7 linked regions of the Homo sapiens genome follow. The protein of the gene in region 2 purifies or fractionates together with the protein of the main gene of each other region. This does not show direct contact. Each region holds a gene or a part of one and is shown on either strand. Other genes may lie near its edges. The genes, in order: MYO1E, DTNA, RIT2, SH3BP1, SEC23A, ANXA4 and P4HA1.

The links.
Region 1: the proteins of DTNA (region 2) and MYO1E fractionate together in Homo sapiens (co-fractionation; one large-scale study listed by BioGRID). This does not show direct contact.
Region 3: the proteins of DTNA (region 2) and RIT2 purify together in Homo sapiens (affinity purification with mass spectrometry, with the first as the bait; one study listed by BioGRID). This does not show direct contact.
Region 4: the proteins of DTNA (region 2) and SH3BP1 purify together in Homo sapiens (co-immunoprecipitation; one large-scale study listed by IntAct). This does not show direct contact.
Region 5: the proteins of DTNA (region 2) and SEC23A fractionate together in Homo sapiens (co-fractionation; one large-scale study listed by BioGRID). This does not show direct contact.
Region 6: the proteins of DTNA (region 2) and ANXA4 purify together in Homo sapiens (affinity purification with mass spectrometry, with the first as the bait; one study listed by BioGRID). This does not show direct contact.
Region 7: the proteins of DTNA (region 2) and P4HA1 purify together in Homo sapiens (affinity purification with mass spectrometry; one large-scale study listed by BioGRID and IntAct). This does not show direct contact.

Annotation. Positions count from the first base shown.
Region 1 is NC_000015.10:59,225,750-59,230,366, forward strand, and holds part of MYO1E (unconventional myosin-Ie), read right to left. Parts: intron 1,842-4,617; coding exon 1,710-1,841; intron 1-1,709. UniProt on the Homo sapiens protein: Actin-based motor molecule with ATPase activity. Unconventional myosins serve in intracellular movements. Their highly divergent tails bind to membranous compartments, which are then moved relative to actin filaments.
Region 2 is NC_000018.10:34,712,829-34,717,445, reverse strand, and holds part of DTNA (dystrobrevin alpha), read right to left. Parts: intron 1-4,617. UniProt on the Homo sapiens protein: May be involved in the formation and stability of synapses as well as being involved in the clustering of nicotinic acetylcholine receptors.
Region 3 is NC_000018.10:43,108,522-43,113,138, forward strand, and holds part of RIT2 (GTP-binding protein Rit2), read right to left. Parts: intron 1-4,617.
Region 4 is NC_000022.11:37,645,365-37,649,981, reverse strand, and holds part of SH3BP1 (SH3 domain-binding protein 1), read right to left. Parts: coding exon 4,472-4,617; intron 3,165-4,471; coding exon 3,053-3,164; intron 2,716-3,052; coding exon 2,634-2,715; intron 2,542-2,633; coding exon 2,461-2,541; intron 1,664-2,460; coding exon 1,547-1,663; intron 129-1,546; exon of another isoform or gene 57-128; intron 1-56. UniProt on the Homo sapiens protein: GTPase activating protein (GAP) which specifically converts GTP-bound Rho-type GTPases including RAC1 and CDC42 in their inactive GDP-bound form.
Region 5 is NC_000014.9:39,030,835-39,034,860, forward strand, and holds the end of SEC23A (protein transport protein Sec23A), read right to left. Parts: intron 2,495-4,026; coding exon 2,405-2,494; 3' UTR 1,085-2,404; downstream 1-1,084.
Region 6 is NC_000002.12:69,821,669-69,825,524, reverse strand, and holds part of ANXA4 (annexin A4), read right to left. Parts: intron 70-3,856; coding exon 10-69; 3' UTR 1-9. UniProt on the Homo sapiens protein: Calcium/phospholipid-binding protein which promotes membrane fusion and is involved in exocytosis.
Region 7 is NC_000010.11:73,047,985-73,052,601, reverse strand, and holds part of P4HA1 (prolyl 4-hydroxylase subunit alpha-1 isoform 2 precursor), read left to right. Parts: intron 1-1,352; coding exon 1,353-1,549; intron 1,550-4,617. UniProt on the Homo sapiens protein: Catalyzes the post-translational formation of 4-hydroxyproline in -Xaa-Pro-Gly- sequences in collagens and other proteins.

The sequences.
Region 1 (4,617 bases), on a different chromosome or scaffold from region 2:
CATTCTCCTGCCTCAGCCTCCTGAGTAGCTGGGACTACAGGCGCCCACCACCACGGCCAGCTAATTTTTTGTATTTTTAGTAGAGACAGGGTTTCACTGTGTTAGCCAGGATGGTCTCGATCTCCTGACCTCGTGATTCACCCACCTTGGCATCCCAAAGTGCTGGGATTACAGGCGTGAGCCACCGCACCCAGCCAAGAATTACTTTCATGTCAGAATCTTGAACCCCTGCGCCCATCAGTTCCCAGCCTCTATTCTGGTGGTTTCTGACTTAAGGGCAGAGAACTCCTGGGGGAGGGTTGGGGCTTGCATTTATTTAAAGAAGTCCTGACATCCATTATACACTTCCATCTAGCACTGGGTATTATTTATGTGAAATATATAATTATTTTTCACTTATCTATATATGTTGCTTTAATACAATTTTAAAAATGACTGAATTCACAGAAGTTTTAATCATTTATATACTTTTTCAACCAACAGGTACAAACTAAAAGAATTATTTGGCATTGCCTAAGATGTGTGTGTAATTGAAAAGATTGAATGTGAGCTACTTCCACAGTTTAATGTCCTTCTAATCCAGTGATCCACAAACTAAACACGAAATGAAACAAAACAAAACAAAAAACAGTGACCAGGTCTTTCTTCGAAGAAAGTCTAATGTGGATCTTCAATATAAAATACTAATAAGTAAATAGAACATAAAAAATTTGGTTATTAACATCATTATATTTTTTAAGTACTTAAAAACCTTTTACAAAAGTACCTGAATCAGGGCCAGGTGCAATGGCTCACGCCTGTAATCCTAGCACTTTGGGAGGCTGAGGTGGGTGGGTCACTTGAGTCCGAGAGTTAGAGACCAACCTGGGTAACATGGTGAAACCCCACCTCTACGAAAAATACAAAAATTAGCCAGGTGTGGTGGCATGTGCCTATAGTCCCAGCTACTTGGGAGGGTGAGGCAGGGGGATCATTTGAGCCCAGGATGCAGAGGTTGCAGTGAGCCAAGATTGTGCCACTGCACTCCAGCCTGGGCAAGAGAGCAAGACACTGTCTCAAATAAAAAAATAAATAAAATAAAAGTAGCTGACTCAGATGACTGCTGAAGCCTGTAACATAATCAAAAAGCACCCTGCAAGCTGCTCTGGCCCCAAACTCTCCATGACTTCTGAGGGTCTAGGTGGCAACTTTTCAATTTGGCATTAAAGATCCCAAACCTATCTCAAATCTTTCCTCCGGTAGCTCACGTTCTGGAGACGCCTGCCCTGCAGGCAGGCTGAGGCCGGGCTCCCTGACTGGCTTTCCCTCTCCCACCTCCACTGCTTTGGTGCAGGTCACCTGTCTTCCCTCATCAATCCCCTCCACTTTCCATCCGGGCTCTACCTCCTTCACACCTCTCCTACTATCCGGCCAAACCTGCCCACCTGAATTCCTTTGGCAAAGACTCCAACACTCCTCGTTTTGTTTTGAAGTTACATCAATACTTTCTTGATGATTTAGCTTTGGAGGAATTTCTGTCTTATCACTCCAATTAGAACTCACTCTCCTTGAGGGCAGGACATTCTCACAATTCTGCACATTGACTTGTACATGGTATCATCATCAGTCCTCCCTGGCTTCCTAGACTATAGTCTATGCCTGAAGTCTGAGAAATATTTTAATGTAGAGAAGGGACAGGAAGTGGGTAGGAAAAAAGTAAACAGGAAAACCTGGTAAAATATGTGAAAACTCCGCTCTCCTGGGTTCCTCATCACCACCCTAGATTTTTCCAGAAGGAAGTTGGAGATCTTTCCACCATCTGGTTCCCCACCTGGACTGAACTGGATTTCAAAGTATTTTCCCTGCAAGAAAGTTAGGGATTTCCTTCAATGGTTGGTGAACAAAACATGATGTCCCAAACAGGCTTTGAATACAGTATATAATTCAAGGAAATTCATTAATAAAATACACATTCTGAATTACTCCTAATTTGAGTCTAGACTTCCTTAGTTTTCAATCAGACAATAACCCGTGCTTTTGTCCAGCCACACGATTCTGTTAGAGAGAGCACCTATCATTCCAGCATGACTAAATAAGGATATGCTCTATTCCTTGCTCATTTTCCCCCAGTAGGTGCCTGTCTGCTCAACCAGAAGGTGTAAATCATGAGGCAGAAAAATGGCATGGCACCCTTTCAGAGGAAGAGCACTCTTGCTCTGTCAGGCTTCATCTCATGGCTTTGAGCAAAAACACTCAATCTCTCTTACCTACGGAGCATCTAAAATGTTTATCTAGAACGGAAACACTTTATTAAAAGTAAAGTTCTTTCTAGCTACTGACGGGCCTAGGGATTTTTGTCACTGTCATTGTTATGAAAATTCCTCTTTAAATGACTGCTAATAGGGAACAAAGGAGAATAAAAACCTAGACTGTAGTTGAAAAGGTATCTAGGTTGTTATATTAATTATATATAGCCAGGCGCGGTGGCTCACGCCTGTAATCCCAGCACTTTGAAGGCTGAGGCAGGTGGATCACTGGAGGTCAGGAGTTCGCAACCAGCCTGGTCAACATGGTGAAACCCCATCTCTGCTAAAAATACAAAAAATTAGCTGGGCATGGTGGCGGGTGCCTGCAGTCCCAGCGAGGCAGGAGAATCGCTTGAACCTGGGAGGTGGAGGATGCAGTGAGCCGAGATCATGCCACTGAACTCCAGCCTGGGCCAGAGAGCGAGACTCTGTCCAAAAACCAAAATAAAATGAATCAAAATTATATATATAATTATTATAACAATTATTATATATATTTCATATGTATATTTAAATTGGTTTTTTTTTCTCACTAGAACTTAATTTGTCTCCTGTGCTTAGAAACTTAAGCACCCTCAGAGGCCAGAAGGGTAAATACGGATAAAGGAAAAGAGGGAGTGGTGTGGTCTATGGTCAAACTGGAGAAGATGCCCAGCCTCATCGCATTCACATTTAATAACATAAAAATGTGTATGCTGACTAAATCCACCCATCTCAGGGATGAATTCAGCTGGGTTTTATGTCTGTGACTGGAGCTGTAAACTCATTAAGGGCAAGAAAAGTACTGTGCACACTGCAAATGTGTGAGTACATGCCGTGTTCCTGTTCGTAATTATTCTAGGTGTCAAGAAAGACCACCGAAGGCGGCCAGCCTCTAACTGTCTATGTGTCTTAATCTGATGATTCTTTTCCTCCAGGCAAAAAACAAAAACACCCAGCAGCACCAGGCACAGAGAACCACCAGCCATCGCTCTGCGGAATGTCAGTGGCACCTGAGAAAAGCTCACTGAAAGAGAGCTCCCGTGCTTCCTTTGGCGGCCACCTTCACCACCCTTTCCTTTTGGCATGTGATAGAGGGAATACTTCAGTGCCTGTCCCCCATTCCTCAACAGTTGAGGGAAAATGAAACCAAACAGAACATCTGACCCAGGAAGGGCAGGTGTTGGACAGGCAAGCTCCCAAGTCCTCCTAGCAGCAGTGCTCAACCTTGGATGCCCCTTAGAAACACCTGGGGAGCCTTTCCAACATGCTGTCAGCCCAGGCCACGCACATCAGACTCTAGGACCAGGGCCCGGAGCTGTGTGGTTTTCAAAAAGCACCCAGCTGATTTTTATGTGTGGTCAAGGTTGAGAACCACTGCTCTAACATAATAAAATGCATATGCATGGCTCATAATTGTCATATAAAAGTTAAAATTTCTAACAAAAGGTTAACATATTTAGGACTGCTGTATAGCAGCCTGGGGGGGATGACAGGAAATTTTATAAAGGGAATAAAAGGTTGCATTTGCATTTTGATAATGAAATGAAAAGAAGTTTCACCTCGACTCTTGGTAATGATTTATTTCCTAAGCTGGGTGCCAGATACATAGATGTTCATTGCATTGTTTTTAAATCGTGTTTGAAGTATTTCGTAATACATTCTTTAACTTGAAAAGATTTGTAAGTGTTAAATATATACATTCTTATGCTTCATAATACCTGTGCATTTTTTAAAGTGAAATTACTCATAATTCTACCCTGATGCCACTTCTTCATTCTCTTGCTAAATAATTACTGTCATAGATGTCAAACTTTGATTTACATACCTCTTAGTTACCTTTCATATAATGTGCACATTAAAAAAAAACAAGAACATATTGTAAATATTGTTCTGTAATCTGTTTTTTTAATTTAACAATATATTATGAATATCTTTTAAAATAAGTAGTTATTTAAGCAGGAAGCTTATGTAATTTATTCTAAAAGTATTGTTGGGCAAAGATAATGAACGATTAAAATTTTAATAACAATTGCCCAATCACTTTCCTGGAAGAATGTGTCAGTTCTCAACCAATAGCGTGTTTTCTCGATTATTATCAATCAACTTAATGTTTGCCCATTTGAGAGACAGAAAATTATATGTGGTTTTCATTTACATTTCTCTCATCCATGATGGTGAATAGTGAGAGAGAGAGAGACAGTGTGTGTTTGTGTGTGTGTGTGTGTGTGTGTGTGTGTGCAGGTGAATGTGTGTCTGAATTGTCTCTTCCAATCTTTCTATCAGGGTTGTATAAAATTTTGCAATTAGAAAAATAATAAATGTTGAGTGTTTTTGTTATTTACAGAAACTG
Region 2 (4,617 bases):
ATTTCTGTAGATAAAAGGGAAATTGCACAAAGAATACTCACCTTCTTGTCCTATCTATATCATCCGAATTTAGCAGAGGTGCTTGAAATTAACCTCCGATATTAAATAAAAGACCCTATTTGTTGTGCTTAATTCTAGAGTGTCACTGTCTATTAAGATAGCACTAGACACACGTGGCTATTTCAATTACTTAGCATTAAATAAGATTTGAAATCTGTTTCATCAGTCGCACTAGCTACCTTTCAAGTGTTTAATAGCCACATGTGGCTAGTAGTTACTATATTGGACTAAGAAGATATAGAGCATTTCCAGCATCACAGAATTTTGAACAGATTGCTCTGGAGCTCTGCCTCTCCACCACACCTAAATGTAGGTGTGGCCCAGTTATTCAAGCCCAGTTATCCTCTGCCCATCCTTATATGAGCAGAAATTTCTTTAGAATAAATTTCAAAAACTAATAATTGGAATGTATACCCTATTTAAAATATTTTGTTATTTTCTCTCACAGTCAAGGCATTCCAGATTTTACCATTTGGTATTGAATTTCAGTGAAATTATAAAAATCTACCCTTCCCACTTGATATGAGACTTCTTATTTGCAAATCAGCGGTGAAGACAAACACATATACATGGGTAAAGGGATTCACAGACTTTTCTACTCTTTAACATTATTATTTTAATAATTTCATAAATTTGCATATTTATATTAACTCAGCTAGTTAGTAGCATGATTCAGGCATTCCAATTCTTAAGCCAAGACTCTTTTTCTACACCATGTTGCCTATACATGTTCCATCTAAAGAGTTGGGAAGTCAACAGTTAGACCAGCATATAGCCATGTCTATGACTTCTTGCAGCTTTTTTTCTTTCTTTCTTTTAATTGAGATGGAGTTTCACTCTTGTTGCCCAGGCCGGAGTACAATGGTGTGATCTCGGCTCACTGCAACCTCCGCCTCCTGGGTTCAAGCGATTCTCTTGCCTCAGCCTCACAAGTAGCTGGGATTACAGGCGCCTGCCACCACGCCCAGCTAATTTTTTGTATTTTTAGGACAGATGGGGTTTCACTACGTTGGCCAGGCTGGTCTCCAACTCCTGATCTCAGGCGATCCACCCGCCTCGGCCTCCCAAAGTGTTGGGATAACAGGTGTGAGCCACGGTGCCCGGCCGACTTCTTACAGCTTTATAGCTTCTAGAGAGGAAATACGAGCTCATGTGTTTTCTATATTTCTTGGATTTTCTTTTTCAGACTGCTATTGTCTGAAACAACGAAAAACTATGTAAATACGTTAGACTATTTATTTTGTTAGGACATATTCCTAGTAGTAGAACTGTAGGGCCCAAGGATATGCAATTTTTAAAGACTTTGCTACACATTGCCAGCTTGATCAACTCCCCACCTGCACCCAGTGTACACTGCTATATGATAGCAGTGTATATGTGTTCCCATTTTCCAGACTTTTCCTAAACCAGACATTATCTCCCCCTTCCTCCTTTTGCTTTCCCCTTTAAAAAATAGTTGCTAATTATTAAAATGACATGTGTTTAATTTGTAGATATTTTTAAAATTAAAAGGGAAGTGCTTTTTCTTACAGATTTATGAGACCTCATTACATAACATGGATATTCACTTTTTCTCTTTCATATATGTTGCAAATGTTGTTTCTAATTTGCCATTTATCTTTTTAATTTTGTATATAACATATTCTAGAAGGAGTAAGTTTTCATATTACCATTCCTTTATGATTTTTGTCTTTGAGGTCATCCTTTTCTATCATAAGTTCTATATTTTCTTTCACTACTTTCATAGATCCATATTTTATACTGGAATTGCCAATCCATCCAGTATTTTCTTTCATGTCAGGGATGTGTAGAGGTAAGTAATTTTTCTGAGTAAATGTTCCACCAAACAAATCAAAATTAACAGGTTTCAGATATAAAATATTGTTTATTTAAAATAAATAATTAAAAAATTAAAAACAATTAAAATATTGAAATGGTGTCTAGTGAACATTTCATAACATGTGTGTTTGAGAGTGGGGAATTATTATAGTAATACCACTCTAAAATATCCAGCTAATAATACCATGAAGTGAAGACCAGTTAATTGCCCCTTTATATACTAAAAATATAACTAATTGTTCTTTCCTAGAAATGAGTTTGCATTTTTCCTGTCAGATACTGACCCACACATTGTACAATTCTTGATAAGTTTAATCATTTTTTTTTCTATTTTTTATTATTATACTTTAAGTTTTAGGGTACATGTGCACATTGTGCAGGTTAGTTACATATGTATACATGTGCCATGCTGGTGTGCTGCACCCACTAACTCGTCATCTAGCATTAGGTATATCTCCCAATGCTATCCCTCCCCCCTCCCCCCATCCCACAACAGTCCCCAGAGTGTGATATTCCCCTTCCTGTGTCCATGTGATCTCATTGTTCAATTCCCACCTATGAGTGAGAATATGCGGTGTTTGGTTTTTTGTTCTTGCGATAGTTTACTGAGAGTGATGATTTCCAGTTTCATCCATGTCCCTACAAAGGACATGAACTCATTATTTTTTATGGCTGCATAGTATTCCATGGTGTGTATGTGCCACATTTTCTTAATCCAGTCTATCATTGTTGGACGTTTGGCTTGGTTCCAAGTCTTTGCTATCGTGAATAATGCCACAATAAACATACGTGTGCATGTGTCTTTATAGCAGCATGATTTATGGGTGGCTGGGTCAAATGGTATTTCTAGTTCTAGATCCCTGAGGAATCGCCACACTGACTTCCACAATGGTTGAACTAGTTTACAGTCCCACCAACAGTGTAAAAGTGTTCCTATTTCTCCACATCCTCTCCAGCACCTGTTGTTTCCTGACTTTTTAATGATTGCCATTCTAACTGGTGTGAGATGGTATCTCATTGTGGTTTTGATTTGCATTTCTCTGATGGCCAGTGATGGTGAGCATTTTTTCATGTGTTTTTTGGCTGCATAAATGTCTTCTTTTGAGAAGTGTCTGTTCATGTCCTTTGCCCACTTTTTGATGGGGTTGTTTGTTTTTTTTCTTGTAAATTTGTTTGAGTTCATTGTAGATTCTGGATATTAGCCCTTTGTCAGATGAGTAGGTTGCGAAAATTTTCTCCCATTTTGTAGGTTGCCTGTTCACTCTGATGGTAGTTTCTTTTGCTGTGGAGAAGCTCTTTAGTTTAATTAGATCCCATTTGTCAATTTTGTCTTTTGTTGCCATTGCTTTTGGTGTTTTAGACATGAAGTCCTTGCCCATGCCTATGTCCTGAATGGCAATGCCTAGGTTTTCTTCTAGGGTTTTTATGGTGTTAGGTCTAACGTTTAAGTCTTTAATCCATCTTGAATTGATTTTTGTATAAGGTGTAAGGAAGGGATCCAGTTTCAGCTTTCTACATATGGCTAGCCAGTTTTCCCAGCACCATTTATTAAATAGGGAATCCTTTCCCCATTGCTTGTTTTTCTCAGGTTTGTCAAAGATCAGCATTCTTATACACCAACAACAGACAGAGAGCCAAATCATGAGTGAACTCCCATTCACAATTGCTTCAAAGAGAATAAAATACCTAGGAATCCAACTTACAAGGGATGTGAAGGACCTCTTCAAGGAGAACTACAAACCACTGCTCAAGGAAATAAAAGAGGATACAAACATTCCATGCTCATGGGTAGGAAGAATCAATATCGTGGAAATGGCCATACTGCCCAAGGTAATTTACAGATTCAATGCCATCCCCATCAAGCTACCAATGCCTTTCTTCACAGAATTGGAAAAAACTACTTTAAAGTTCATATGGAACCAAAAAAGAGCCCGCATCGCCAAGTCAATCCTAAGCCAAAAGAACAAAGCTGGAGGCATCACACTACCTGACTTCAAACTATACTACAAGGCTACAGTAACCAAAACAGCATGGTACTGGTACCAAAACAGAGATATAGATCAATGGAACAGAACAGAGCCCTCAGAAATAACGCTGCATATCTAAGTTTAATCATTTTTGATGACAGCCTCTATCGCTTATTGAACAAAACCAAGATATTTTATAATAAAGTCTGATAATAACATACCAAGCACCTCTATTCCTAGTGACTTATAAATGCTATTAACATAATTAATTAAATTTGAGGGTTAATTTCTGAGAATCATACTACCCATTAGTAATTTCCACTTTCCTTCTAAGAGCATTGGCCTTTTACTACACAAAGAGGCAAGAGCTTTCTAATCTATCTTATTCTCCAAATTAATCATTATTGTCGTTATCATTATCATCATGATCATGGTACCATTACTTTCTTTTTCATTTGAAAAGTCTTAGATTTCTAAAAAAAAAATCCAATTCTTTTCATGTCAAAAATTACATAGTGGTCAATAATAAAATTCACCTTAATAAAATCGGAGGTTAAAAAATAACTCCTAAAAATGGAGTATCTAGATGATATTGAGTCATCATTCATTGGCTTGATCTTCATCTATTTTAGAAATATTTTCTTGGAATTTAAATATCATTAATTTTTTAGCAGAGGCTATACTATTTTACTCAATATGGTTGTTTTTTAACATGTTAAAAAACTGTTAAATATCTGTCTCCTTAGTAGAG
Region 3 (4,617 bases), 8.4 Mb from region 2:
CATGTGGGCTCATTGAGGGATTATTACATGCTCGTTCATCTCCAGTCATAGATGGGGCAGACATATCATATAGTACTCATGTAGAGCTGTAGAAACTCTCTTTCATCAATTTAAAATCTACAGAGTGCATATAATCTTGGAGATGTTGTCAATCAAAGCCTTTCGCCTGAATTCTGTTTTCAATCATTATTTGAGTGAGTAGATACCAATTTACTCTTTTACTGAGCCTTATTTAGACCTCTTGGCTAATGCTTCCTGACAGTATTGCAGTGAGTGATGGTCTGCAGTACAACTGAGGTGGTAACAATTAAGGGTGAGAACAGAAGGCCCTGGAATCTTAAAATCTTTTTGCTTTCCCCTTGTTTATTTTGTTTCTTTTGCCTTACAGTCCACAGGGTTAGGATAACGCATGGCCACGATGTGACAATTGTTGAGCTTTGTCAGACTCAAAGTTCTGCTAATGAAGTAAAATACAGAGGCTGTGGGACATGAATGATGCACTTGGTTGCTTGCCTTGATTTAATTCATCAGATAAAGGCTCAACTTCCTACCTGCTTTCCTAATTCACTGAGGTGGAAGGAATTGGTTGTGTGCTGCTTTCCGTTTACCTCAGAGATATTGTTACTGCTTTCTCTTTATAAAATCCTGCTACATGAAACTGAATTTGCAGAGGCAACAAACTGCACATGGCCGTGGGAGAGAATATGTTTGTTTATTTTAGAAATCAGTTTTTTCTTTACAAAGAATTCACAATGGAAACATTCTAATAAATTCTGAGTTCCCTAATCCTTTTTGGGTTTTCAGTTTATTTGTGTTGTGTAACTTTTTCACAGTTAACTGAAGCATCTATTGAGCAAATCTCAAAAGATATTTTTTCAACTACCACTTAGAGACACTAAATTATCAAGATGCTGCCATTAAAAATTATAAGCCTTCAGATCCCTTTGTGCCCCTGTATACACTGTTTATGTTCAATTCTTTCCCTTGGATCTCCCCATACTTTTCTTCTTCAGCATCAAAAAAATCCTCCTCATCCTTTAAGACATAATTTAAATACCATCTATGCTGTGATTTCTTCTCAACTTTCACATCTCTTATAGCCACCCCTTATACTGAGTTTCCAAAGCTCTTACATCAGAAGCCTAATATAAACTTATTGTTTTGTATTACACATTACAGCAAATTTTCCACCATGAGATGGTGCACTCCCAGAGGTCAGGAATCACCTGAAATCATAGTTGTGAATAACACTCCCTCCCTGCTCAATGACTTGCATAGTGTTTCATACATATTTCACATTTGAAGATGTATGTTGACAACATTTCACCAAATAATTCCAAGATGTGTCCTAGGGACCAGAGAAGGACATAAAGTTCTCATCTGACATTGGGAACCTTTTTCTGCTTTTCCCATACAATTTGATAGAAAAACAATTTAGATGTAGAAAGCCTGTGTTCATGTCCAGTCCTTATTTTCTGACTTTCCTACTAGACAAATCTCTTGATAGTTCTGTGCTTAGATACCTCTCCTACTTGCCTTCTTACTTTGTGATCAAATAAGATCATAATCAGAATAAGTAAAATGTTATTTTTACCCCAATTTTATGCGATAATATCTTATTTTGCAAAATATGATCATTATGAATCTTAAATTATTTAAATCTTAAAACATTATCATTATGTTAAGTGTATGCCTGTATACGAATATTTCCTTAACTCCATATATATATATACCCACTATGTACCCATAAAAATAAAAAAAATCAGTAAAATAAAAACCTACTAACTTAGAATAAATCCCAAATGCAGATATTTTCCAAAATACCTGGAAAATAAGATATTATTTTTATTAAATAAAATCTGTTGAATAAATTTGATTCTGAACTTGGAGAACCAGATGTGAAGCCAAGGAAGACAATATTTCATCATGCTCTGGCATTGAGGAACGGCCTTGCTGTTTCAAACCACAGTGACAAAGGTCAATATTTGAAACTGTTATAAGGATTGTTTAGGCTCCATAAAACTTTAAAACTGTAACCATGAGATTATTTTTATTTTTATTTTTTAGGGTGGGTGAGTGGCGGGCAGTGGAACAAAATGAGATAGAAGGCTAAAAGAAGATGCCTAAAAGATGCCTAACATACTGAACTTTATTGGATAATTTGTCTTTTTTGTTGTTTTCTTTTGGTTTTAGTTGTAATCACAGTTTGTAATATAAGTTTCTATTCTACTGTCATTTAATGTTATTTCACTGAATGTGTATGTGTGTATATATATGTGTGTTGTTTCTTAAGTAGTTTTCTCGTCATGAGTCTTATTTTTAAAATAAACTTTATTGTGTATATTTAAGGTATACAATATGATGTTGTGGGATACACATAGATAGTAAAATATTTACTATAGGAAAACAAATTAGCATATCCATCATTTCACATAGCTACTTTTTATAGGGGGTGGCAGTATCAGCAGCTAAAATCTACTAATTTATGCAGCACTAGCAACAATAGCCAAGATTTGGAAGTAACTTAAGTGTCCATCAACAGAAGAATGAATAAAATAAATGTGGTATATATACACAATGGAATACTATTCAGCTATATAAAAGAATGAGATCCAGTCATTTGCAACAGCATGCATGGAAATGGAGATCATTGTGTCAAGTGAAATAAGCCAGACACAGAAAGACAAACTTTGCATGGTCTCATTCATTTGTGGAAGTTAAAAATTAAAACAATTTAATTCATGGAGATAGTAGAATGATGGCTACCAGAGGCTGGAAAGGGTAGTAGGAAGAGGGAGTGGAGATGGTTAATGGGTACAAAATTGTGGTTAGATGGAATGAATAAGATCTAACATTTGATAGCACAACAGGGTCATTATCATCACAAATAAGTTATTGTACATTTTAAAATAACAAAAAAGTATAATGGAAGATTTATAACACAAATAAATGATGAATGTTTGAGGTGATGGATACACCATACCCTGATGTGATTATTATACACTGTATGCCTGTATCCAAATATCTCATGTACTCCATAAATATATACATGTATAAAATATATACACCTACTATGTACAAATAAACATAAAAAAATCTACTAATTTAGCATAAACCCCAAATAAAATATTATTACCTCTAGTCCTCATCCTATACATTAGATCTCTATACTTGTTCCTCCTAAATGTCTGCTACTTTGTATACATATCTGTTACTTTGTATGGTGCAGTTTTGATTCAGCTTACTCTGTGTAAAAATTGGGGAGTGATGGAAAAGCAGCTTCAATGGTGTCAGAAGGACTGGATTCTGGATCTGACTCTGCCACTGCTGTATAAATGACCTTTGCAGGTCTCTTCACCTCTCAATGCCTCAGTTTGGCCATTGTCCAAATAATTCTTGTGTATCCCTGTTTTCTCTGCAGTTAGTAACATTCTTGGACAATATTACATATAATTATAAAAATATAAATACAAATATTAATATTATATATTTATACAGAAGTATTATGCATAGTGTTCAATTAGGTTAAAGATTAAAGCGGCATAGATGTATAAATCAAAGTGATAGCCTAGATGGTTAAGATCTCTTCTAAATATAACATTCGAGACCTAGGAAATGCATTATCAATGGATCTGTTTTCTTCTTACTAGTGAGTGATGCAACTCTTTGTTCTTCTCAGAGCATTAAACATAATGTAGTAGAGTTAGATAAAACATCACAGAACTCTAAATTATTACCCCCATGACCAGGCACAAGTTATTTTTCTGACCTCTGTTTTTTCATCTGTGAAATAGAAATACCGACTCTGACTGTGGTTAGGACTGAGTATAAGCGTGAAATACATGTAGCCCATGCCTGCCATGCAATGGGGGCTTCATAAATGTTTACGTCCTTCATAGTAACTAGTATAGGACTGTGCATAATACGTGCTCAGTAAACTTTATTGATTACTTGTGGTTTAAAATTCCTCACATAAAGTACATTCATTAACTGACATATTTTAAATCTTGTGGGAATTCCTATTTCAGTAAAGTTGCAAATTCTTTTAAAAGTTTCTATTAAAAAATATTTTGGTAAAACATGGACAAAAACATTTCTCAGGCCAGGCACAATGGCTCATGCCTATAATCCCAGCACTTTGGGGGGCTGAGGCAGGAGCATTGCTTGAGGCCAGAAGTTTGAGACCAACCTGGGCAACATAGTGAGAGCCCATCTCTACAAAAAGAAAAATAAAAAAGAATAAATATTAATATACATAAAAAATCTCCAAGATTTTAAAAATTATAGTCACCATAAATTTAGTTTTTAATTCATGTTTAAGGCTGACTTGGACTTGACTCTCAGAATTGGAAACAGATGGTAGCTTGATGCATCTTCTTTAGTTTCTTCAGAAGAGCAGATCTCTTCTGGAAATCTCTTCACACAACCCAGGGTAATGGGGTTATACAATCCCTTCATATACCTCTGTTGATCTAAGTCTTTGATATGAAAAGTAGGTTTTAAAACGTATATTTTAGAGCCATGATCATGCCACTGCACCCCAGCCTAGGCTCAAATGAGATAAAATAAACCATGTATATTTTTAGCTCATTTGAAAGCAAATATTTTAACCTTCAA
Region 4 (4,617 bases), on a different chromosome or scaffold from region 2:
CCCTTCCTTCACCCTGACAGACATCACTAATTAATCAAGGACCCTTTTCCTCATAGTTGTGATCTGGACAGCCTCTACCAAGCAAATGCAATCAGCACGTGGGAGGAAATCTTGCCATCTGTGGCCAGGTAAATAATGATGACTCCTCACATAGCACTGCACTTTACACTTTAATTTTATTATTTCTTCTTTTTTTTTGAGACAGAGTCTTGCTCTCTCACCCAGGCTGGGGTGCAGTGGCCCGATCTTGGCTCACCGCATCCTCCACCTCCCAGGTTCAAGAGATTCTCCTGCCTCAGCCTCCCGAGTAGCTGGGATTACAGGCGCGTACCACCACGCCCAGATAATTTTTGTATTTTTAGTAGAGACGGAGTTTCACCATGTTGGCCAGGCTGGTCTCGAACTCCCGACCTCAGGTGATCCACCCACCTCGGCCTCCCAAAGTGCTGGGATTACAGCTGTGAGCCGCTGCCCCCGGCCTATTTCTTCATTTTTAGAGACAGGGTCTCATTGTGTCACACAGGCTGGAATGCAGTGGCTCCATCATGGCTCACTGCAGCCTTGACTCCCTGGGCCCAAGCAGTCCTCCCATCTCAGCCTTCTGAGTAGCTGAGACTTCAGGTGTGCACCATGCCTGGCTAATCTTTTTAATTTTTTGTAGAGACAGGGTCTCATTAAGTTGCCCAGGCTGGTTTCAAACTCCTGAGTTCAAGTGATCTTCCCACCTTGGCCTCCCAAAGTGCTAGGATTACAGGCATGACACTGGACCTGGCTTGCACTTCACAGTTTCTAAAACATTTTCCAATTCATCATATCACTCACTCCCCAAAGCAAAAGCCCTCAAAGTTTGTATGATTTCTCCCCAATTTACAGATGAGGAAATCGAGGTTCTGAGGGTGTCTTCCTCAGGCCCATCTCTGGAAGGTGGAGGGGTGGAGCTATTAGTAGAACCTGATCGAGCCAGGCGCGGCAGCTCACACCTGGGGCGCGATGGCTCACACCTGTAATCCCAGCACTTTGGGAGGCCGAGGCTGGTGGATCACGAGCTGAGGAGATCGAGACCACCCTGGCTAACACGGTGAAACCCTGTCTCTACTAAAAATACAAAAAATTAGCCGGGAGTGGTGGTGCGCACCTGTAGTCCCAGCTACCTGGCAGGCTGAGGCAGAAGAATCGCTTGAACCCGGGAGGCGGAGGTTGCAGTGAGCCGAGATTGCGCCACTGTACTCCAGCCTGGGCAACAAGAGCAAGACTCCATCTCAAAAAAAAAAAAAAAAAAAAGAACCCGATCTCTGGGCTCCCAGCTCCCCCATGCCACTAAACACCTCATCACCACCACTGGCCAAAATGCCAGAATTGCCTCTCTCCAAAGCCCTGTGGCCTGCACAGCCCCTTTGGCCTGTTCCTCACGGCAGCCTCAAAAACAGGAGCTGCTCAACCCACTCCAAAAATGGGGACACCAAGGCCCCGGGGAAAAATAGACAACAGATAGTTGGGATGGGATCTGCCTTCCTCCTGCCACCTCCCCCAGCCCGCGGCCCCTCACCCTTCTTTCTCAGGTGGCCACAGCAAGTTGGGTCCCAGGACTATGGCGATGTTGCTGGGTGTCATCTTGTTCACCTCCTGCTCCTCGGCCAGCCGTGCCAGGAACTTCATCAGGTACCTAAGGGCGGAGGCAGGCTTAGGCCAGGGGCAGAACGCACCCAGCCCTGAGAATTCTCCAGCCCAGGGTTTCCAAAGAGTGTGAAAGACACCGCCCAGAATGGTCTTAACATTGTCACAGTTAAATCAGCTTATCCACTGAGTGCCAACCCTGCAGTGGGCACTGAGCCAAGCTGAGTCCTCAGCAGCCACCCTACAGGGTAGAGATTGTTACAGTCTGCATTTTCCAGATGATGACGCTGAGTGGCCTGCCCAGAGGTGGCATGTGAAGCCAGGCGGTATGGCTTCAAAAGTTCAAGGTCTCATTTATTTCAATGCTTCGCATAAAAATGTGTGACTAATCCGGCTGGGCGCAGTGCCTCACGCCTGTAATCCCAGCACTTTGGGAGGCTGAGGCGGGTGGATCACCTGAGGTCAGGAGTTCAAGACCAGCCTGACCAACATGGTAAAACCCCACCTTTACTAAAAATACAAAAATTAGCCGAGTGTGATGGCAGGCGCCTGTAGTCCTAGCTACTCGGGAGGCTGAGGCAGGAGAACTGCTTGAACCCAGGAGGCGGAGGTTGCAGTGAGCCAAGACTGCACCACTGCACTCCAGCTTGGGCGACAGAGTGAGACCCTGTCTCAGAAAAAAAAAAAAAATTATATATATAAATGACTAATCCATCAAAGCTGCATTTTCAGTAATATTTCTTAGGATACAGTGGCAAGGCCAGGCTCAAGCCCAGGGTCCCAGGGTCCGTGACCTCAGCTGGGCTCTGGCTCTGCGGCAGGCTGGGGAGGCGGGCTCGGGCTCACCTGAGGTTGCTGAGGTTCTCGGGGGGTAGGCGGCTGCACACCTCTTGGAGGGCCTGCAGCCGGGCCCCTGGCTCCTTCAGGCTGGGGGGGAGTGGAGAGACCTGTCAGCCAGCGCAGGGCTACACCTTTGCATCCTCCTCCTCCCCATCCCCTCCCTCCTCCAACATCCTCACCTGGCTGCCCTCATCCAGTCATCATAGAGGTCGAAGGTCATCAGAGGCTCTGGCAGCTCCCGCAGATAGGACTTGAGGGCACCTGAAGGAGGGGTGTGGGGAGGGTCAGAGGCAGCCCCCACCCGCTCTCCCACTCTCCCTGTAGAAGGAACCTCCGGCCCTTGTTCACACTAACGTGTCTAGGTCTGACAGTTTCTTTGGGCTGTAGGCCCTTTTGAGAAAATGAAGGCTAGCCATCTTGTCCCCAGAAAAATGCCAAACATTTTCGGGGGGCTCATGATGGACCCCACATTAAGAACCCGAGTGTCCTCAGTCTCAACAGAATATCAAGTCTTAAAGCCAGGCTATCTTGGGATCGTTTCAAGCCACTGCACCCCCTCCCCCCCAACCTCCTGCCCAGGGCTCCCCGGATCAGGCACCTGCCACAGCGTGCGGGTCGGAGCAGAACTCCTCCAGGCTGTGGGGGTCCGAGGCCATTGTCTGCTTGAGACGCTTCAGCACCGAGGCCCCAGCAGCCAGACGGAAGAGACCCTGGGTTCGAGAGGAGGCAGGCAAGGGTCACAGAGGGGTGGGCAGGGCAGGACACCCTGGCGCACTTGTAGCCTGGGGTGTGCCACTGGCCTTTGCTAGGCCTGTGTCCCCGCTGGTCTGGCTGGCAGTGTGGGCACCACGGTGTCCACGGGCTTCAACCTTCAAGGTCTAGAATTCTGAGCAAAGGGCAGGGCTGGGAAGTCTGGGAGGAGGCGGGAAAAATCATGGGGAAATGGAAGCCCAGTCAGAAGTGGAAGGGAGGGGCCGGGTGCAGTGGCTCACGCCTGTAATCCCAGCACTTTGGGAGGCCTGTGCAGGTGGATCACTTGAAGCCAGGGGTTTGAGACCAGCCTGGCCAACATGGTGAAATCCCATTTCTACTAAAATAAAAAAAATTAGCTGGGCATGGTGGTGGGCATCTGTAATCCCAGCTACTTGGGAGGCTGAGACACAATCGCTTGAACCAGGGAGGTGAAGGTTGCAGTGAGCCAGGATCGCACCACTGCACTACAGCCTGGGTGACAGAGCGAGATCCTGTCTCAAAAAAAAAAAAAGGGTCGGGCGCAGTGGCTCATGCCTGCAACCCCAGCACTTTGGGAGGCTGAGGCAGGTGGATCACCTGAGGTTAGGAGTTCAGGACTAGCCTGGCCAACATAATCTCATCTCTACTAAAAAATACAAAAATTAGCTGGGCGTGGTGGTGCATGCCTGTAGTCCCAGCTACTTGTGAAGTTGAGGCAGGAGAATCGCTTGAACCCAGGAGACAGAGGCTGCAGTGAGCCGAGATCACGCCACTGCACTCCAGCCTGGGTAACAGAGCAACACTCCATATCTCAAAAAAAAAAAAAAAAAAAAAAGTGTAAGGGAGAAAGGAGGCCCCAGCACAGCAGGATTGCTGAGCAGCGCAGAACTGTTTTGGGGTATCTGCCACCACTAGGGTCTATCTTCAGGACAGGGGGGCAATGTATTCACAGCAGATCCAGCCAGTGTGTGGCAGTGGAGCCCCTGGTTTGAGAAGTCACCTTCTCAAATGACTCTGGGCATGGTTACCTCTCTACCTCTGTCTCCCTCTTGTGAAATTGTGAAATGGAGCCTGGAATGCAAAGGCTTCTAGTACAGCGCTTGGCCCACGCGAGCATTGACACGGGGGAGGTAGTGTGGATGCCGCAGGAGGCAGTCATGTCTTCTCCCAGGGAGCTGGGCTCGAATGAGGGAATTACAGGCACCCGGAAAGGGCAGCAAGTGGGCGGTTTGGGACAGAATGAGGGCCCCAGTGCTCCTTCCCCACCTGCCCCAGGGGACCCCACCTCTTCCTTCATGCCCTCAGAAAGCAGCATCATGACGCAGGCCTCGATGGGCAGGGCAATCTCCCGGCCCAGCTCTTGCAGGTGGGTTGCCAGCGACACCCCATACACCCTGGGGAAGTGGGTGGCTGTCATCGAAGGGGAGTGGT
Region 5 (4,026 bases), on a different chromosome or scaffold from region 2:
CCACCTACAAAGCAGAGAGCCATCACCACACACCAACTCTATGGTGCACCTTGATTGTGGACTTCCCAGCCTCCAGAACTGTGAGAAATAAATTTCCATTGTTTATAAATTACCCAGTCTAGGGTATTTTGTTCTAGCAGCGCAAAAGAACTAAGACAGGGCTAAACATTCAACAGTCTATGTAGGTAGATAATAATTTAGAAATAGACACATTATACACAAAAATGATCCCAGGTGATTGCTTTTAAATGGTGAACTAAAAGGGTATATTTGTTCATCCTTATCCCTAAATTCAGCTGTAACTGATTTAGAAGTAGAGGACAGTTTAGGGCTAAGTACCAAGACAAGAAACAATGGCACAACACTTAAGAACATAACTTAAGAGGCCAAGCACTTAAAGAACATAACTTAAGAGGCCAAGCAAATTAAACAGGTGTCATCATTACAATGTCTTTCCTCAATTCAAAATACGTGAACTTGGCTGGGTGCAGTGGCTCACACCTGTAATCCTAGCACTTTGGGAGGCTAAGGCAGGTGGATCACTTGAGGTCAGGAGTTCAAGACCAGCCTGGCCAATACGGTGAAACCCTATCTCTACTAAAAATACAAAACTTAGCCAGGTGTGGTGGCAGGCGCCTATAATCCCAGCTACTTGGGAGGCTGAGGTAGGAGAATCGCTTGAACCCAGAAGGTGGAGGTTGCAGTGAGCTGAGACTGTGCCACTGCACTCCAGCCTGGGCAACAGAACAAGACTCTGTCTCAAACAACAACAACAACAAAAAACTACATGAACTTCTATCTCCCTTTTTAAAAACACACTAGCCTTACAACAAAAATGAGTAACTATTGGGAGTGATAAAAAATACTCTAAAATTGATTGTGGTGATGTGGTTACATACATAACTTCACGAAAATACTCAAAACTATTAAATTGTGCACTTTAAGTGGGTGAAGTGTATGATGTGTGAATTATATCTTAAAGTTGTTATTTTTTAAATGAGTAGCTTTTAAATCTAATGATTTTAAATACTCTAATTTTACATTAGGCTTCTCAGGTTTTACTAGATTTCAAAATAGCCAGAAAAACAGTGAAAAGTATATTTTATTGGCATTTAGGCCTAGCGTAGTTCAATTCAAATAAAATATAACAAAGCAACTTATTTAAGCTAATTGAATATAACACATAAACAATTTTTTCTTAAGTTTCTGCTTTACCATCATATGATTGTGTTCATGCAAGTACAATCATTAAAACTGTCCTCCTAAGCATATATCATAGCACCACCTTTTATTTGCAGTACTTGATATGTAAATTTCATTGTCAAAACATATCTGGCTTTATCAATGTAAACATATTTGCTACAAGTAAACTTTAAAGGTAAAAGTGAATACTAATGAATAAATCAAAATAGAACTGAGCATCACATGATATAATTAAGCAAACATTATATAATACTGTTTCAATAAGAACCACAACTTAATACATTTCACAAAAAGGAAGGAAAAACAAAAAGTAATGTGTAAACTGCCAAAATAGTGTTAAAATACTGAAGGATATAATGCAAAATTTACCTCTGAAAAACAAGGGGAAAACAACAAAACCATGCTGTGAAAACTAAATTTGGTTTAGTAGTTACAACCGTCATTTTACTGCAAAGGCTTACTAAAATGCACTCCAACAAAACCATTTATTTTCTATCTCCCCTTTTAAAAAAACTACTGCGTTTAGTCACATAAGTTGGATATTTTGTGGAAATTTCACATTTTTTGTCAGCTGCGGGATTGTTACCCAAAAAAACCTTTCATCTCTAAACTATCTTTCCAAATAACCAAAAACATTATCATCATGAAAATTACCATTATAAAATCAAATAATTCCTAAACAAATCATAAAAATAAATCTGCCTTAACCTAGTAAGTACAGAAAAAGTGTATACATAAGTGCTGAAAATTACAGAAAAATATTCAATGAATAAGCAAAAATGTTCACATTTATCATTACTATTGTTTTTTTGCTTTCTGGCTAAAATTAAGGAACAAGTTTTTAAAAGGTGAGCAAGAAAATTCAGTGCCACTTTGGGTCTGTCTGCAATATACAAATGAGTTACATCTGTAGTACGAGGCAGACTCTATTTTTTATTAAACATAATTAAGTTATAAAGACTTCAAATTTCTAGAACCAGCTATAACACTGTGGTAAGCAAAATAAATTTGTTCTTATTGCTCTCATTATAATTCCAGCTTAATCTACAAATGTGAACATTTTCCATATGTTGTCTCAAACCATACTAATACAAAAAATATAGAGCAATATCTGTTGGTTTCCACAGATAAATGGAAAAAGGAAAAAATGAAATTTGAATATTATTTCATCTTCTTAAGTGTCTTTAACATTATTAGCACTTCAAGCAGCACTGGACACAGCAAGTTTCTTCAAGTGATCCATAAACACTTGTAAACTAACATCATCTGTAAGAATAGGTGCTCCAGACTCCTAGAGGAAAAAAGATATTTGTTATGATTAAAGCATAGGGTGATATCATGGAATTTATACACAAATGTTTAAAATAGACAAGGAAATCATTTGAAATGCCTATGGTCCTATTAAATAAAAAGAATCTAACTGGCCTCCGTCCCTGGTTGCTGGGAGGGAGACTCTACATCCTTAGAATTCCCTGATAATAGGAGTGTCTTTATTCATAGGCTGATGGGATCACATAGGAGTTTATGCTATGAGATGAGATGAATCAGGATGGCGGCTAGTCACCACGAAGACTAACAATGGAATTAGAGGCTTGGTGCTTTTAAAAGAAAGCCTGACCTCCAGACCCTTTCTCCCTGGCATTTTAAGAGAAATCCCAGCTGGAAGGAAGCAAACTCATAATATCATTTTTTAAATAAACTATGCTTCTCAAGTTTTCAGGTCGTTTTAATTGATTTCTGTAGGTTCCAAGTAATTAACAAGAGTTAGGGAAAATTCCTATTATCCATTTTAATAAAAACTGTATTGACAGAATGATCTTGGTAACCCAATCCATTAACAATGAAATTTTACTTCAGCAAGAGAAGGTATTTCTAGAAGATTTTTAATCTGAATTTTACATTTTTCTTCTTATACTCAAGTTCTTATTAATTATAAATATTCAAAGTCTAAAACAGGGAAATTAAGTAATTTCAGCAAATTATTGGCAAATGTGAGATGAGAACTTATAGCTCCTGTGATTCTAGTCTGGCATAGCCACAAACATGCCATAACCTCTCCTGAATAAAGGGAAATCAATTTTATCATATGTTTATTCAAAAGAACTTGAAAGATTTGATAATGAAGGGAGGCAATCCCTTACTGGGATTAAGGGCATAGAGTCTGGATCCAGAATGCCTAGGCTCAAATTCTGGCTCTGCCACTTCCTACCCATATGACTGAATAAGTTATTTAAACTATGTCTTAGTTTCCCCATGTGTAAAACAAGGATAATAACAGGACCTATCTTACACAAGTTGTTGTAATGATTAAATGAGTTAAATTCTATAAAGCAAACAGAACAGTACCTAGTACACACAGTAGACATACATGTTTTAGCTATTTCTATTGTTCCTCCTGTTCAAAAATCTATAACAATGAAATACTTTTCTTTATTCTATATGCATAGCTAACACAGAAAAGCACAAGTCTCAAAACTGTAACCTAAACCAGTAACAACCTCATGGCTCTTACTTTTTTCTTCCTGTAACTATGCCTGATTTTATTTTCATTTTACAATGTTTTCCATCTCAAGTCACCCAATCTCAGAGCCATTTCTCCTAGTCAAGACAAAATATAAGGATTTCCTAATTTATATACCACAGAGCTCCTGCTTGAAATGATAAATACCAATGCTCATTCGATTTTATAAAAAATTAGCAGTTAGCTGATCTCAACTTTTCAAATGGACCCTTTTTCTATTTAAAATATATCCAGGATTAGGCAGAAAGGTACAAGCTTTACATTATTTAGTATATGAGGCACTACAGCAACAGAGGCCTCCA
Region 6 (3,856 bases), on a different chromosome or scaffold from region 2:
ATTTTTATTTTAATCATCTCCTCCACAGAGAACAAGCAGTACTTTCCTGTAGTCTCCAGATGTGTCACCCTGTTCGATAGGGAAGCAAAGTTAGATAAATAGATTTTAAAATGAAACACACAGTTCAAAGTCATCTAAGCCAACTTTTTCAAGCTTGGCTGGATTTTTCTTAGCTTTAAATTTTTTTTGTTATTTTTTATTACGAAGGTAATACTTATTCAGTGTAGAAAATAAAGACAAAAAAGAACACAAAAATCAACCATTATTCCATCATCTAGAGACTACTATTCTTACCGTTTTGATGTGTGAATGTCCTTCCAGTCTTTTTTCTATGTATCTAGATACCCAATGTGATAGAACAGTAGTATTCTGTGTTCTGCTTTTTCACTTAACAATATAGCCTATTTCCCTATTTTGTTCATTTTTGTTTGTGGTTTTTTTTTTTTTTTTTTTTTTTTGAGACAGAGTCTTGTTCTGTCACCCAGGCTGGAGTGCAGTGGCGCCATCTTGACTCACTGCAAGCTCTGCCTCCCGGGTTCACGCCATTCTTCTGCGTCAGCCTCCTGAGTAGCTGGGACTACAGGCGCCTGCCACCATGCCCGGCTAATTTTGTTTTTGTATTTTTAGTAGAAATGGGGTTTCACCATGTTAGCCAGGATGGTCTTGATCTCCTGATCTCATGATCTGCCAGCCTTGGCCTCCCAAAAAGTGCTGGGATTACAGGCGTGAGCAACCGTGCTAGGGCCCTATTTTGTTAAATATTATTCTACAACATTATTTAATGGTTACAGAATATCCCATTGTATGCAGGTAAAATAATTTATTTGATCACATCCTCCCTCTCCCTATTGTTGGATATTTACGTTGTTTCAATTTTTCACTATTATAAACACTGCTTCAATAAGCATATTGTAGTTACATTTTTGTATATTTTCTTAATGATTTATTCTGGATAAATTTTCATAAAATGGGAATTACTGGACTAAATGCATTTTCTTAAACCTTTTTTTTTTTTTTTTTCTGAGACGGAGTCTCGTTCTGTGGCCCAGGCTAGAGTGCAATGGTGCAATCCTGGCTCACTGCGACCTCCGCCTCCCAGGTTCAAGTGATTCTCCTGCCTCAGCTGCCTGCGTAGCTGGCACTACAGGTACACACCACCACGCCTGGCTAATTTTTATTTTTTTAGTAGAGACAGGGTTTCACCATGTTGGCCAGGCTGGTCTTGAAGTCCTGACCTCAAGTGATCCACTCACCTTGGCCTCCCAAAGTACTAGGATTACAGGTGTGAGCCACCGCACCCAGCCTGTTTTCTTAAACATTTTGATATGGGTTACAAAACAGTCTTCCGGAAAGGTTCTATAATTTCTGCATATAAATTTTTGTGGTCTAATAATTGATTAATTTTTTAATCTTTAATTTTATTTATTTATTTTTATTATATTTTTAGAGACAGGGTCTTGCTCTATCACCCAGGCTGGAGAACAGTGGTGTGGTCATAGCTCACTGCAGCTTCGAACTCCTGGGCTCAAGTGATCCTCCCACCTCAGCTTCCCAGAATGCTGGGATTACAGGTGTGAGCCACTGCACCTGGCCTAGATTAATTTTTATTAGTCATTCGTGGGGACTAGAAAAGATGGAATCTCTGTATATAGGGTTCAAAGTTTAATAAGTATCTGTTAAGCTCAATCTTAATATATCCTTGTTTATACTTTGCCTCATTGATGTGCCAAAGCATAGGATGTATTAAAGTCTCTCGCTAGCATACTAATTCCATTATATGTTTTCTTCTGGAGCCTCAAGTTTCTTATTTATACATTTGAATGCAATATAATTTGGTACTGAAAGTTTCATAACAGTTTAATCTTTGCTGTGAATTGTTGCCTTTGTCAGTATAACGTGATCCACTTTCTCCTATTTAATACTTTTTCTCCCTAAATTCTTCTTTTTATTAATAGCATAATCTCCGCTTTCTTTCTTGTATGTCCGCTTTCTTTCTTTCCCTGGTGTTTTTCTTTAAGCTTTTTACATGTCACTGTATTTTAGTTGTTTCTTATAAACAGCATGAAGTTGGATTTTATATTTTTACCTAACCTGAGAGTTTATTTATTTTTATAACTTTTATTTTTATCTTTTGTCATTTTTTTCTATTATTTACATATTTTATGCTTCTATTCTGCTTTTTTCATTTCTTTTGACAACTATTATTGAATGAGTAATGTATTCTTTATTTTTAATCTTTTCTAGTGGTGTGTGTGTGTATACACACATATATTTACATATTTATATATACAGACATATATACACTAGATTATAGTGTTTTCTTCCCAAGCCAATCAATATATTTGTACTCAATCATTTTAGTGTTGGTATAGTATTATATTGTATGGATTTTCCATAATTTGTTATTCCCTATTGATTAATAGTAATAACAATATATAATAAATTATATACTATAATACCATATTATTGATATAAATATAAATAACATAAAGCCATGTAAATAATATAAATAATGCTATGATGAAGTATTATACTTCATCTATTCTTTTCACATTTCATTAAACAATTTTATTCAAATTCAGAGACTTTTTCTTGTGGTAAAAAAATATATATATATAATTTGTCATTTTAACCATTTTCAAGTGGCACTAGTTACTTTTACAATGTTATGTAACCATCATCACTGTCTATTTCTAAAACCCTTTCATCACCCCAAACAGAAACTCTGTACCCACTAACCAATAACTCCCATTCTTTCCTCTCCCTCCAAATTGCTGGTAACCTCTAATCTACTTTCTGTCCCTATGAATCTACCTATTCTACATATTTCATAAAGCAGAATCATACAATATTTGTCCGTTTGTGTCTGATTTATTGCACGTAGTATATTTTCAAGGTTCATTCACGTATCAAAAATGTCATTCCTTTTTTTCATGACAGCGTACCATTGAATATCATTGCTTTTTATGTATGTATATACATTTTGTTTATCCAGTCATCTGTTGATGGATATTTAGGTTGTTTCCACCTTGTGCCTATTGTTAATAATGTTTATGTTGATGTACAACTAGCTGTTTGGGTTCCTGTTTTCATTTAAGTATATAACTGAGAGTGGAATTGCTGGCTCATATGGTCATTCTATGTTAAAATTTTTTCTTTTTCTTTTTTGGGATGGGTCTTTACTCAGGCTGGAGTCTTGAAGTGGTACAGTCATGGCTCACTGCAGCCTCGACCTCCCCAGCCTCAGGTGATCATCCCACCTCAGCCTCCTGAGTAGCTGGGACTACAGGCGTGCACCACCACACCCGGCTAATTTTTGTTGATTTTGTAGAGACAGGGTCTCACTATGTTGGCTAGGCTGGTCTCGAACTCCCGGGCTCAAGTGATCCACCTGTCTCGGCCTCCCAAAGTGCTGGGATTACAGGCATGAGCCACGATGCCTGGTCTATATTAAACTTTTTGAAGAAGTTTGGTGCTTAAAGTTTCGTAACAGACTGTTTTTCACAGTGGCTGCACCGCTTTATATTCCTACCAACAGTGCACAAGAGTTCTAGTCTCTCCATATCCTCCATAAATCATTTGTCATTTCCTGGGGTTATTTTGTTTTTTTCTTGTTTGTAGTATATTTTCCCATAACTTCACTTACCGTCATCCTTGAATCTTAAACTAGTTATATAGTTCAGCTCTGCAAAATCAAGTTACCTCATAGCCTAGTCAGAAATAGAAACAAGTTCCTGCATGCCTTGTAGACGTAGTAACAAAATCCACAGCTTGGTGGGGCATGGTGGCTCACACCTGTAATCCCAGCACTTTGGGAGGCCGAGACGGGTGGATCACTTGAGGTCAGGAGTTCAAG
Region 7 (4,617 bases), on a different chromosome or scaffold from region 2:
AATAATAAATCAAGATATTGGTTCAAGTAATCTTTTTTCCTTTCAGTATTTTCCAGTGGTATTTCCTCTTGACTTAAAATATACTTTGTACTCATTATAGAAAATTTATTAAAACAGAGAAAGATACAGAAGAGTCATCTATAAGCCAGTCACTCAAAGACACCTACACATTTGTTTCCTTTTAGTGTATACGCCTCTTCCCTGCACACACTTTTCCTTTGCTTTTACAAAATTAGGTTAATATTGGATATCGTAACATTTATTGTGAGCAGTTTCTGAAGGACAAGAAATATTTTACAATCTAAGCCTAGGTATCCTAAACACTTAGTTACTGTCACAAGTGAAGTCTCTATATATTCTTCTGCCTTTTTATTTTTATGTGTGTGTGGTTCTTTAGTTTTTTTTTTTTTTCCTCTCAGATGGGTAGCGTAGTCATCTTTTCTTCTACTAAAAGGTAGTTCAAAATTATGACTAGCAATTCTGAGGCAGTTAGTGGATTCCAGCTTATTCGAAAATTATATCTTTAGTTTCCCTTTTCCTTCTTACTTAGAAATTTGGGACTGAACTTCACTCAGCCCTTAGAAGTAGGCTACATTTATAATGTATCTGTGGTAAAGGTTGCTTTTGAATTGCTTATCCCCTGTCTTCCTCATGTGATTGTTTTTCTGTCTTGGAAAAATCTTTTTCATTTCTTAAAATAAGTAGGATGAGTAAGATTTTAAACTTCATTTGACATCAAATTGAACTTAGTTCCTTTAGCTGATTAGTAAATTCTCAAAGTAAAAGCACCAGTTGCCACCTTTAAATAAATAGCTGTTTCTGTCTCCAGAACTGTCTTTTTTGAGACAGGGTTTCACTCCTTTTGCCCAGGCTGGAGTGCAATGGCATGATCTCGGCTCACTGCAACCCCCGCCTCCCGGGTTCAAGTGATTCTCCTGCCTCAGCCTCCTGAGTAGCTGGGATTGCAAGCACCCACCACCACGCCCAGCTAATTTTGTATTTTTAGTAGAGACGAGGTTTCACTATGTTGGTCAGGCTGGTCTCGAACTCCTGACCTGAGGTGATCCACCCACCTCAGTCTCCCAAAATGCTGGGATTACAGGTGTGAGCCACCAGGCCTGGCCCAGAACTGTTTTTATATAGGTGACTATATGTCCTGATTTACTTGGGGGCAGTAGTAACTTATACCTATTATTTTGGTATAATAATTTTTATTAGTGCCTCCTTTCACTCACAACAGCAACCTGGTTTGGAAGATAAATTATAATGTCTCCTATTTTTATATTACTATATTCTGATGCTTGAACAAGCATGAACTTACCCATGGACATGCTTTGTTTCTCTTCTAATAGATCCTGAACATCAGAGAGCTAATGGTAACTTAAAATATTTTGAGTATATAATGGCTAAAGAAAAAGATGTCAATAAGTCTGCTTCAGATGACCAATCTGATCAGAAAACTACACCAAAGAAAAAAGGGGTTGCTGTGGATTACCTGCCAGAGAGACAGAAGTACGAAATGCTGTGCCGTGGGGAGGGTATCAAAATGGTAAAGTGGAAAAGCCAATTGTGTGTATGTGAATGTGTGTGTGTATGTGTTTGTACACAGTTCTGGAGAGAATCAGTTATTTTATATTTAAGCCTATGTGATAAAAATCAGAATGACTGCATAAAATATTACAGTATGTCAGCTTAGGCAACATAGACCCCATTACAAAAAAATTTAAAAATTAGCTGGGCATGCTGGTGTACACTTGTAGTCTTAGCTACTCAGGAGTCTGAGGTGGGAGGATCACTTGAACCAGGAGTTCAGGGGCACAGTGAGTTATGATTACACCACTGCACTCCAGCCTGGGCTACAGAATAAGACCCTGTCTCTAAAAAACTTTTTTTTTTTTTTTTGAGATGGAGTCTCACCCTGCCACCCAGGCTAGAGTGCAGTGGCATGATCTCGGCTCACTGCAAATTCCGCCTCTTGGGTTCAAGCGATTCACCTGCCTCAGCCTCCTGAGTAGCTGGGATTACAGGTGCCCGCCACCATACCCGGCTAATTTTTGTATTTTTAGTAGAGATGGGGTTTCACCATGTTGGCCAGGCTGGTCTCAAACTCCTGACCTTGTGATCCACCTGCCTTGGTCTCCCAAAGTGGTGGGATTACAGGCGTGAGCTGCTGTGCCCAGCCTAAAAAACTTTAAAAAAAAAATTACAGTATACCATTCTCTCTCTGTGGGTGCCACATTTAATATGTTCCAATTATTAGTAAAATAGCTTTAAAATAAAGCTTGTGAATCATATACTATTACATATGTTTGGGGCAATATTACCTTTTTCATTTGATCCTTCCAGGGTGAAGGATCAAATAAGTTTAAAGGAAGTGATAGTTTTTTTTATATTTAATGCAAGAGAGATTTCAGCAGTATTTTTTTTTTTTTTTTTGAGACAGAAACCCACCCTATCACCCAGGCTGGAATGCGGTAGCGCAGTCTCGGCTCACTGCAACCTCCGCCTCCTGGGTTCAAGCAATTCTTGTGCTTCAGCCTCCCAAGTAGCTGGGACTACAGGCATTCGCCACCATGCCCGGCTAACTTTTTTGTATTTTTAGTAAAGACGGGGTTTCCTTATGTTGGCCAGGCTGGTCTCAAACTCCTGACCTCAGGTGATCCTCCCGCCTCGGCCTCCTAAAGTGCTGGGATTACAGGCGTCAGCCACCACACTCATCTGTTCAGCAGCCTTAATTAGAGACAATAACACTACTCTGTGCATCTTATGAGATACAACAGATTCATCTATACAATAATCCCTTGTAGTTTTGCTCCTAGTTAATCTTCACAAGATTGCTTAGTGAAATGCTTTAGTCTGTTTAATACTGAAAATGCAGAAAGTTTTCAACAGATTTTGTCTTTAATATTTCTTTAAAATATATCTATAAATATTACTTTGTTTATTGTATATGTATTTATAACTCAGAATTCCAGTTCTATAGATGTTAATAGATACTAGGCCAAAAGCAAAAAGAACAAAGTCTGGGGAACATTTGTTAAACAAAGTTGAACATAGGTTTTTGTTTAGCCTCAAAACTTCTCAGAACCTTTTTATGATAATGTGCATTGTGATATGATATACATTCTTTCTCAATATTAATTGATTATGGAACCTTTTGAAAAGGAATTTCATGTGGTATTAGTTTTCAGTTGAACACAGGCTTGCATAGAAGGAGTTAGTGAATTTTTGGAGTAAGTACTTTTAGGTGTAAACATTTGAAAAGTGTTTAACATTTTCTTTACTACTGGTAAACTCAAGCTGGGCTTTGCATTTCGATATTGATGACTGTTGACAGCTTAACCACTAACAGCAAAGTATACAATACGTATGGTGACACTTTCAATAGATAGGTTCATGGAGTCCTAGGAGGACATGCTTGAGCTAATGAGTAAATACAAAGATGGTGACACTGTTAGACTCATTATTTTCTTTTTTTTTTCTCTGAGACGGAGTCTCGCTCTGTTGCTCAGGCTAGAGTGCAGTGGCGCCATTTCGGCCCCTGGGTTCACGCCATTCTCCTGCCTCAGCCTCCTGAGTAGCTGGGACTACGGGCGCCTGCCACCACGCCCAGCTAATTTTTTGTATTTTTAGTAGAGATGGGGTTTCACCTTGTTAGCCAGGATGGTCTTGATCTCCTGACCTCGTGATCCGCCTGCCTCGGCCTCCCAAAGTGCTGGGATTACAGGCGTGAGCCACTGCACCTGTTCCCTCATTAAACATTTTCTTTTCTGTTTCATTACTAAATATTTTAGTATGTATCTTTTAAAGATACAAATTCAAAATAACTACAATACCATTATCACCTAAAAATTCACAAGTTTTGTAATATCAAATATCTAGTGTTCAAATTTCCGCAGTAAGCAGAAATTTTTATTGCTCTTAATAACTCTTAAGGAACAAAATAAAACTGTAGATATAAAACAAAGAGTCTGCTAATTTCCCGGTTTGTTAATGTAACACATACTCAACTTTGCCTAAGATCAAAAGAACATTCTTGCCAGGCACGATGGCTCATGCCTGTAATCTCAGCACTTTGGGAGGCCAAGGTGGGTGGATCACCTGAGGTCAGGAGTTCAAGACCAGCCTGGCCAACATGGTGAAACCCCATCTCTACTAAAAATACAAAAAGTTAGCCGAGCATGGTGGCAGGGGCCTGTAATCTCAGCTACTTGGGAGGCTGAGGCAGGAGAATTGCTTGAACCCAGGAGGCAGAGGCTGCAGTGAGCCGAGATCAAGGCATTGCAGTGCAGCCTGGGTAACAGAGCAAGACTTTGTCTAAACAAAAACAAAAACAAAAAATTCTTTTTCTCAGAATAGCTACATTCATCTCATCATTATATAAAAGACTTACTAAAAATTAAAGCCTTGGATTTGACTCTAGGTAAAGTGCATGGAGAATAAACATGAATCATTATTTGTTTTAGTATACTATTAGTATAATAATTGAAACAGACTACTCATATTCCTGCTTATGTGACATACTTGTTTTTGTTTTGTTTTGTTTTTTTGAGACAGCTTCTTGCTCTGTCACCCAGGCTGGAGTGTAGTGGCATGATCATGGCTCACTGCAACCTC